Linked DNA regions of Homo sapiens: regions 1 and 3 are each reported to be linked to region 2. Evidence: microRNA targets listed by miRTarBase, many of them from high-throughput screens and not tested one by one. Region 2 holds a microRNA gene; each other region holds the end of a gene's coding sequence.
What was found. The annotated mature microRNA hsa-miR-515-5p reads UUCUCCAAAAGAAAGCACUUUCUG and lies in region 2 at 1,631-1,654, opposite strand. An mRNA with a match to its seed (bases 2 to 7 or 8) in the 3' UTR can be bound and repressed. Matches are read on the target gene's strand: a 7mer-m8 pairs with bases 2 to 8, a 7mer-A1 pairs with bases 2 to 7 and ends in A, and an 8mer does both.

Region 1 (3,000 bases), not on the chromosome of region 2:
AATCCACTTCACAGATGAGGAAATTGAGGCATGGCAATGTGCAATAACTTACTTGGGTGCTAGAGGGAATTCAGACCTCCTTCTGAGTCCTACACATCATTCTTTCTTTTCATGCCATTTAAATGTTCTGAGATAAAAATGGATATGACTTTGTGGGGTGTGAGGTCAACCCTGACTTGTCTTACTCCCTTGTTTCCCAGACTTTTATCGGACGTTTTCGCCGCATCATGGACTCCTCACAGAATGCTTACAACGAAGACACTTCAGCCCTGGTAGCCAGGCTAGACGAGATGGAGAGGGGCTTATTTCAAACAGGGCAGAAAGGACTGAATGACTTTCAGTGTTGGGAGAAGGGGCAGGCTTCTCAGATCACAGCTTCCAACCTCGTTCAGAATTACAAGAAGAGAAAATTCACTGATATGGAAGACTGAAAGCCGGAAGAACACAGAATGGCTCCTCACAGACGTATCCCTCCGTGTGTCCTTGATAGGAGCTGGTTGACCTTGTACAGAACCAGAATCCTGTCCCATTTCATGGCTTATTTCCTGTGGCCATAGAGAATTATAGGGAACTGGACATGCTGGAGGATGTGGGTGTCCCTGGCTCTGTGAGTCTTCCAGGACCGTCCCACCCTGCTGACCCACAGCCCAGGCCCTTTAACCCAAGAACCCATGGCCAAGGAGAAATCAAAGTCCTTCCTAAATAAGAATCACTGCCATATAATATATCACAGTAGAGTTGCAACTGAGATTCCTTGTGTCTGGGAGTTTGGACAGCTTCAGATGTACAGTTTCACTAGCCACAAAGCACAGGTACAAACTGGGTCATCGCCTGTTCACAAAATGCTCTCTTGATCTTATTTGCCTCATCTTCCTCATGGTTGTACAGAGGATAGCACCCCACCATGCCAGCCTGACTTGGAGATATCTCCTGCTGCCTGCCTGCAGGGAGTTACCCCAGTTTCCAAAAACAGTCGCCCAGATAAAGGAGGAAAAGGGAAAGGCAGACGAATGGCATGGCTTTTACTAAAGAAAAGATGTTGGCCTCATACTCTATACTCAGGGCTTAATGAACTGGAATCTGCATAACTCAGCAGTCAACCCAGAAGGGAAATGGTTAAACTGAGCTTGTTATTGCCTCGGAGAGCCTAAGAGCACCCGCACACTTAATTCTACTCCCTGTCTAGAAAAGCTGTCAGGGAGTCGTTTGGAATTGCAATGTAGTTATTAAGGGCTGTTAACCAGCCTGCATTACATCTGGAAGTCAGGACTTGGGTGCTGACTATGAAGGGCCCTGTTTTCAAAATCTAACATTGCAAGTGTAAATGGGCAAGAAGCCTCCGTTGTGCTTTTTTTTTCCTCTTCAGTAACTTTTGCAACATTATTGCATAGAAGATCCCTGACCATTTACTAGGAACCTGGTTAAGCAAGCACTAATCTCTTTTCCTGGAGATCAAGGATGCAACCTCAGGTTGAGAAAGAAACAGGGTTCCCTGGGCCCATTAGACTGTTTGCAGGGCATCACTGCTTCCCCCTGACACCTCACAACTAGCAAAAATTGTCTTTGTCTTTGGAAATTATAGAGGGATTTGGGTATCCAGATTGTGCAGATGCAAACTTAGGCTGTCTTGATGCAAACTTAGAACCACAGAAATGCTTTTAAAATGCCTGTTTTAAGATGGAATTGTTGTTTTTATAATTTGATTTTAGTGCTAAATAAATGATTGGCTTTGTACATGAATATGTTCTGTACAAGTGCTCTTTCACTAGTACTACAGATAATCAAAGCTATCAGAATTGTGTCTTTGATCATATTTGACGGTAATACACAAATCCATGTTTTAGCAGCTGCTCTTTTGCTTGTGTGGTACACATAAATAGGAGGTACATTCTCTGTAGGAGGGTGCTGTGTCCTAGGAAGATGAGATTTCCATTACTACCGCAGCATTTATATATAGCCAGGGCCCGAGAAACCATTCATAGAGCGAGAAAAGCATATTATTTAACTTTTGGCATCATTCTTTTCACACATAGCTTTATATTTAAAGTCAACTCTAAGTCTGCTGCCATTTTTTCCTACTTCCTAAAAAAAAGAAATTCCTCAGGGGCCATGTGTCAGGAATATGTAGGTATTCATGTCCAAAACTTAGCCCCTATTTTACATTTTGAACAGATTATATTACATGTAGCTTTTGAACTCATTTTCAATTACAGATCTGCCTTCAAGCCTGTCGGACTTCCCCTCTCCCCAGCAGCCCTCCAGTTAGTCGTTTAGATTTTGATTTGGTCCCTTCAAGAGGTTAATTTTTCAAAAAACACAACAAATGGGCTCAAATACCAAATTGCTATCAAACTCCAGGGAGTAAAGCTGTGCCCTTTCCCCTGAAGCACTCTGTTCCCACATGACTGTGGCCTTACAGACAGAAGACCTCAGTATATATAGGTTTTTCCCAGGGACAGTGTGGGCTGCCAGGAGCAGTGGGGCAAGGCTCTGTCACTGTTGATTCCTCCTGCTGTTCGTGACCTCTGGATTTGGGTGGCTCTGGGCTGTCCATGCCTCTCCATCTCCACGCAGATGGCTCCCAAATTCCTATCTCCAGCTCAGATCGCTCCCTCCAACTCCAGACTTGTATCCAATCCCCTGCTTGATGTTTCTACGTCTCCACGGCCTGCTCCTCCTCTGATGTTTCCCATCTCCATTTTTTACAACTCCATCCTTCCCTATTGCTTAGAACAAAAACGCTATGTCCCCCCCTGACCTTCCTCCTCTCACGCTCCATATCTTTTGGGTCTGCCGTCAAATCATTTGCAGCATCCGGCCACCTCCCCATCACCTGTGGTGCTGTCACTCGGGCCAGGCCCCTACCGTTTCTTTCCTGGAGTTTTGGGATCACCCCCTAACTGCCTCCCTGCATTCACCCTCCACTCCATCTTCAGACTCTTCTCACCATAGCAGCCAGAGTGCTCTTGTTAAGAAGTATATCCAATCTTGTCGATTCTC
Region 2 (3,356 bases):
AGAGACCCCGTCTTAGAAAACAAACAAACCAGGAACAAAAGCCCACCCTCATCCAAGTCTGATGATAAGCACGCTCTGCAAATGTATTGCCGAGATCAGCATGAACGTTAACGTTGCTTTTCTCAAACTGTAATCCTCTAAAAAGATGCACTTTCTTTTCTTTCAGACAACAGAAAGCGCTTCCCTCTAGAGGGTCACAGGCTGAGATCTTCTTGCTCCAGCACCATTGATTTTTTGTTGGAATTTTCCTTGACCAGGTTAAAATGGACACAAAAATAAAGATGCATTTATTGGCCCTGTTTGCATGATTTCTGGAATCCAGAACATAAACCCCTATCAGGGCCATCTCCAGTTCCTTGTTTCAAAAAGCAATGCCGACTATACATACCTTATATTTAACCATGAGAATTGGGCTGGATTCTAGAGAACAGCAATAGATTTTGAGCTAAGTGTTCACTCGAGTTCCAGTACAGTGACACACAGTCCCGACGGGGGCATCCAAAATGGAATCTACGATGTTGAAGAATATGCATTGTCACACACACAAACACCCTCCAGGAGAGACCACAGGCCAGGCTGTAAAAGCTCCTCAATAAAATGAGCAGAAACACACAGGTACAGGTGAGGTGTGGTGGCTCACACCTCTAAACCCAGCCCTTTAGGAGGCTGAGGCAGGAGTATCACTTGAGTTCAAGAGTTTGAGACCAGCCTGGGCAACATGGTGATACCTCATGTGTAGAGAAAACAGAAAAGTTAGCCGGGCGTGGTGGTGTGCGCCTGTAGACAGCTACTCAAGAGGCTGAAGTGGCAGGTGGAGGTTGCAATAAGCTGAGATGGCACCACTGCACTCTAGCCTGGGTGACAGACCCAGACCTTATCTAAAAAAAAAACAAAAACATACACACACAAACAAAAAATTACCCAAAGTGATACGAGAGTATTCTCTGTGTATAGAAGAGTGTTTTGTGTGTATATGACTATGTTACATGTATAATAAGAATATGATAAAATATATATTTTTGAGACCGTACATCAATAAAAATTAAGTTCCATATACTATGTGCTCACATGAAAAATAATTCCTACACATATGTGCTTGCATTGGCAGCACACATTAAAAAAAATTGGAGGCTAGGCTGGGTGGCTTACACCTATAATCTCAGCATTTTGGGAGGCTGAGGCAGGCGGATCACCTGAGGTCAGGAGTTGGAGACTAACCTGGCCATCATGATGAAACTGCATCTCTGCTAAAAATGCAAATATTAGCCAGGCGTCGTGGCACGTGCACCTGTAATCCCATCTACTTGGGAGGAGAGGTTGCAGTGAGCAGATAACATGCCACTGCGCTCAAGCCTGGGCCAGAGACAGAGACTCTGTTTCAAGAAAAAAAAAAAAAGCAAGCACGGGACCACTTGAGCCCAAGAGATCTAGGTTGGAAGCGCCACCGCACTCCAGCCTGGGCAACAGAGACCCCATGATGCAAAACAACTAAACAAAAACAGAACCCCAACATCATGCAAGTCTGATGATAAGCACGCTCTGCAAATGTGTTACCAAGATCAGCATCAACTTCAACGTGGTTTTTCTCAAACAGTAACGCTCCAAAAGAAGGCACTCTGCTTTCAGACAACAGAAAGTGCTTTCTTTTGGAGAATGACTGCATGAGATCTTCTCGCTCCAAAAGTCTGGGTTTTTTGACGGAATTTTCCTCACCTGGTTAAAATGGACACAAAAATAAAGATACATTTATTGACTCTCTCTGCATGTTTTCTGGAATCCAGAATATAAACCCCTAAAAGGACCATCTCCAGTTCCTTGCTTCAAAGGCTCAGCAGGTTAGCCTTGTTCATCAAGAGACAATCCTCCTGAGTTCTGTCCCCAAAGAGAAAAAGCAATGCCTACCACACATACCTTATATTTAACCATGAGAATTGGGCTGGATTTCTAGAGAACAGCAATGGATTTGAAGCCAAGTGTTCACATAAGTCCCAGTACAGGGACACACAGTCCCCATGCAAGCATCCAAAATGGAATCTAAGATGATGTTTAAGAATATACACTGTTGTACACACATTCTCCAGGATAGAACACAGGCTAGGCCATAAAAGCTCCTCAATAAATTTTTTTTTTTTTTTTGAAACAAGTCTCACTTTGTTGCCCAGGCTGTAGTGCAGGGCCGTGATCTCAGCTCACTGCAAGCTCTGCCTCCAGGTTTCCAGCAATTCTCCTGTCTCAGCCTCTGGGGTACCTGGGATTACAGGCACGTGCCACGATGCCCACCTAATTTTGCATTTTTAAAATTTTTTTTTCTTTTTTTTCTTTTCTTTTTGTGGAGAACAGGGTCTCACTGTATTGCCCAGGCAGGTCTCAAACTCCTGGGCTCAAGCTATCCTCCTGCCTCTGCCTCCCTAAGAGCTGGGATTACAGGCGTGAGCCACCGCGCCCGGCTAATTTTTGTACTTTTAGTAGAAATGAGGTTTCACCATCTTGGCCAGGCTGGTCTCAAACTCCTGACTCCAGGTGATTAGCCTGCTTTGGTCTCCAAGAGTGCTGAGACGACATGCCTGAGCTACCGTGCCTGGCCTGCAGACAGCTATTCCAGAGGCTGCGGTGGGGCATGGGCCAAGACTGCAACACTGCACTGCAGCCTGGGTGACAGAGCCAGACCTTGTCTCATAACACACACACACACACACACACACACACACACACACACACACGAAGGAAAAAAAACCCAAAGTGATACAAGAGTATTCTGTGTGTGTAGAAGAGTGTTTTGTGTTAATCATTATATTATCTATAGAAGATGATATGATAAAATGTGTATCATATATAAGACACTGCCCCCAGAAAAGGAAGTTCTATATACTGAATGCTCACACGAAGAGTAATTTCTCCACCTAAGTGCCTTCTCTGGCAGCATATGTTAAAAAAAAAAAAAAATGACAGCGATTCCCACGTCCCCTGCACAAAGTGACACCCAAATTCATGATGGTCCCATATTTAAAATTAGAAAAAACAAATGCCGACACCCACAGCCAATCATTTCTACTTCAAGTACATCTCAAGTATACTGTTAATCTGAAATACAAATTTAACCAGGTTTCCCTGCTCTGGGAAGCCCCCTTTGGTAATTCAGATAAGGGTCTCCTTTGGAAGGTAATGGGTAAGGAACATGGAGATGTCAGCCAAGGGAAGTGACTCTCAGGGATTTCTATGGATTATGCAGACGCCCAGCCAGATCCCAAACTTCCCCAAAAGATCCCAAGTCCAGGCAGGAAGGACCACTGGGCTCCAGAAACCAAATGAAGTGGCCCTGGGCAGGAGTCTCTGTTGTCAGATTCCATGACTAAGAC
Region 3 (3,356 bases), not on the chromosome of region 2:
TTCTATAATTTTTTTCCCCAGTGTTTAGGGCAACACCGTAGCTTCCATCTTTTGTGTTCTAGTACATTAAGATAATGCATTAGGATGTGTATGTGTACAGTATATATGTACGTAAACACACAGGATTGTATTAAACATACTAATTTTTAAAACCAAAACAAAAAACTCTGACCTTATTTTCTAGGCAATTCGAAGTTTTCAAGTAGCCCTTCACATCTATCCAATGAACCCTGAAATATGGAAAGAAGACCTCTCTTGGGCAAGAACGCTCCAGGAGCAGCAGAAGGTAGCACAGAGGATTAAAAAAAGTGAAGCACCAGCTGAAGTAACACACTTTTCACCAAAGTCAATTCCAGACTATGACTTTGAAAGTGATGAGATTGTTGCTGTTTGTGCAGCTATTGCTGAGAAAGAGAAGACAGTTTCAGCAAATAAAACAATGGTTATTGTGTCTGCTTCTGGGGCCATAGAGACTGTAACTGAAAAGGAGGATGGTGCTACACCACCAGATGGCTCTGTTTTTATCAAAGCCCGATGAAGCAGTATGCATAGGATTATTTGAATCTGTCTTTTTGATTGCCTCTTGAAGTTTTGACATAGAGACATTTACTCTGGAGATAGATAGGAGAACGCCTGGTTGTAAAATATGTTTTTCAGATGAGGCATATAAAAACTAAAATGGCAGGATTATTGTATAGTGTTTGGAATATGCTTTGATAAGTTATGATTTATATTTCTCAAGGTTAAAATTCTGAGTAAAATGGTCTTTGATTAATAAACTTAGTTTAATCTGAATATGTAAATGAATACATTTTAAAGACAAAACTTGAAAAATGTATTCTTGAATAGTGAATAATTTGATCAATGTTACTGAAATGCTGTCTCAACTTTTGTTTTATGATAAAGGAAGTGTGTGATTTCCCTCCCTCTGAGAAATATACTGCGCTTAATATTTGCTGTCTTTTTCTTGCTTCATTAGAGTAAGTCTGTCAGAAAGCTTGAATATTTTTGACATTCATTTTGATTCAAAGTTGTCATTTGGTTATATGTGGAATCTTTGAAAGTTTGGCTGAAAATGCACACAAATGTGTACATTCTGAACATTTTCTGAAGTTTCTCTTAATTCTGATTTGTGTTTCTGTTTTGACTTTGAAGTTGTAACAATGATAGTTGTCTCCTTCAGTATTTGGTAAAAGTGTAAAGTATTGATAAATATGAGAATGATGGTTTTATTTTTTAATTGTTACAGTAAGTAATCCTTACCACAAATGAGTCATTTTTAAAATATGCATTTTTAAATGAATGGCTTTTACAGATAGGTTAATGACAATTGTACTGCTATATTATCCCAGTCAAAACCAATACTTTCTTTTCTTTATTTTACAAAGCTTTAAAAACCCTGGAAACAACTTACTTCTTGCTTGTGTCTTTCCATTTGATGACTGGGAATTACTTTTCTAGATAACTTTTTTTGAAACTACTCAGTGAAATGAAAAATAATTACAATTTTAAATAGCTAATTATATCTTTCTAAAAATAAAAAAGTAGGGCTGTTATTAGAGTGCCAATGAATAAATAACTTAAGCACAAAATACATAGAAATTGGAATGTGATTTATAGTACAATCTCATGAGTATGAAAAGGCTATATTAAAAAAAATTTTATTGAAAGTCCACAGTCATATTCACAAACCAATACTGTCATTGCTAATCTGAACTATTATTTTTATACTATATATTGTAGTACAATAATATAGAACTGTTGGGTTCTGTTACTTCTGACACTCAGGAAGATACTATTGGTGTATTAATTTTATCTTTGTTAGAGATGAAAGTAGCCCACTTTATGTTAAAGATCTTACTACTGTTGGAGCTTATAAGTAATGATCTACATTTTTTATGAAGATGGTTTTTAAAACTTTTGTTTTATTGGAATGCATATCTCTTTTCAGGGTTGGAGAAATTAGCACTTGCCTTGAAAAGAATATTCTTTCCTTAAGTTATATCATCAGAAAATTAGCTCTGGTTAGAGAGGTTAGTTTCAGAGTGCTCCAAAAAATATGTTAATTATTTTATTTTGTTTAATAAAGAACATTCTCAAAACGTAAATAGGTATCTAGAGAAGTGAGTACTCAACATTTGGTATATTGTTTTGAGTAATGGATGTTTGTTTTTTGTGTAATTTGTGAATAAATAGTTTTTTTCTGCATTTTGAAGATTTTCCTATTATTTTATGTTGTTAGCTTTTGAAAAATTAGATTGATCTACTTAGTGTCTTTCTTATATGAACTTAATATATTTAAAGTACCTTGCATGGTGCCTCACACATGAAGTAATGCCAGCTATTTCAGTAAATGCTAGCTATTTCTATGAAGAACTTGAGTTAGTTTGGAGATATTTAACCTCAATTTCCTCTGATTTTAAAAAAGGAGAACTTTTTTTGTAATCCTTTCCTTATCTGAAAGTAAGAAGTCTCTGATTCCAGTATTATAGGAGAGATAGTGGGATTTTTCTTGACAGGGTCTATAGCTCAAGTCCCAAAGAGGCAAGACTCAGGATGGAATGCATGTGGCCACTAGGCCCTGTTATAAGAACCTAGTGTTTCCTCTGTACTGGCATGGTAGGCCAAGTTAGTCTCTTTCTTACCCAGATATAAGACATAAAATAGTTTAGACATAAGACAGAGGAGAAAAAGAAACAGTAAGTTATGGAGAAGGAAGGCAGCTCATTTCTGCAGGCCCCTCAAAATGCTTATTTTAGCTCATACTCTTCTATGCGTGAAGAGAAAAATGCACCCATTATTTTACAAGGATGTGAATACTGATATACAAACATAGACTAAGCTTGTTAATTTTAATAACAAATCTTTATGAATCTGAAGAGAATTGATGTTCATGATAATGATATAGATGTTTAATATACTTTCTGAAATAACACTGTTTACTGTTCAAGTTATATTGACTATAATTTACATTATTCTTGTTTGAGAATTGTATGGCATAGACACTCATTAGTCAGAGTGTCTAGACATCCAGACCATGCCTGATAACACAAGAATCATATATCATTCTCTAGAAAACAGGCTGTTTGGTTATAGAGTATTTATCTTAAATATATTAACAGACACTACATAAACATTGAAAAGCCATGCAAGTTATAGCTCACAGGAGCCAGATCTACTGCAACTGGGGCCTACATACAAAATTTTATGGCAGTGGTTTCAGTATGACAATCTTTTGAATTGATGCCGTATGGTAAAACTATAAAGATTTTTTAAAAGCTCTGTCTCAGCTAGAATTTTTAAGATTATAACTGAACAGTATAGCCCTTTTAGTTGTTTGAAAATTACATAATGAT

Region 1: the mRNA of GINS3 is a reported target of hsa-miR-515-5p. Seed matches in the 3' UTR shown: 7mer-m8 at 918-924.
Region 3: the mRNA of TTC33 is a reported target of hsa-miR-515-5p. Seed matches in the 3' UTR shown: 8mer at 1,954-1,961, 7mer-m8 at 2,388-2,394 and 7mer-A1 at 2,708-2,714.

The regions. Positions count from the first base shown.
Region 1 is chr16:58,404,299-58,407,298 of GRCh38, forward strand. It overlaps GINS3 (GINS complex subunit 3), which reads left to right. Exons shown (of 3, transcript NM_022770.4): 3 at 201-1,849. The coding sequence ends at 431. Among named protein-coding and RNA genes, the nearest start is that of GINS3, 13 kb to the left of the region's middle.
Region 2 is chr19:53,683,320-53,686,675 of GRCh38, reverse strand. It overlaps MIR515-2 (microRNA 515-2), which reads right to left and starts at 1,667; the gene lies at 1,585-1,667. It overlaps MIR519C (microRNA 519c), which reads right to left and starts at 207; the gene lies at 121-207. All of the region lies in intron 2 of LOC107985342 (a long non-coding RNA gene), which reads right to left.
Region 3 is chr5:40,713,327-40,716,682 of GRCh38, reverse strand. It overlaps TTC33 (tetratricopeptide repeat domain 33), which reads left to right. Exons shown (of 5, transcript NM_012382.3): 5 at 185-3,356. The coding sequence ends at 538. It also overlaps a transcript of PTGER4 not described here. Among named protein-coding and RNA genes, the nearest start is that of PTGER4, 35 kb to the right of the region's middle.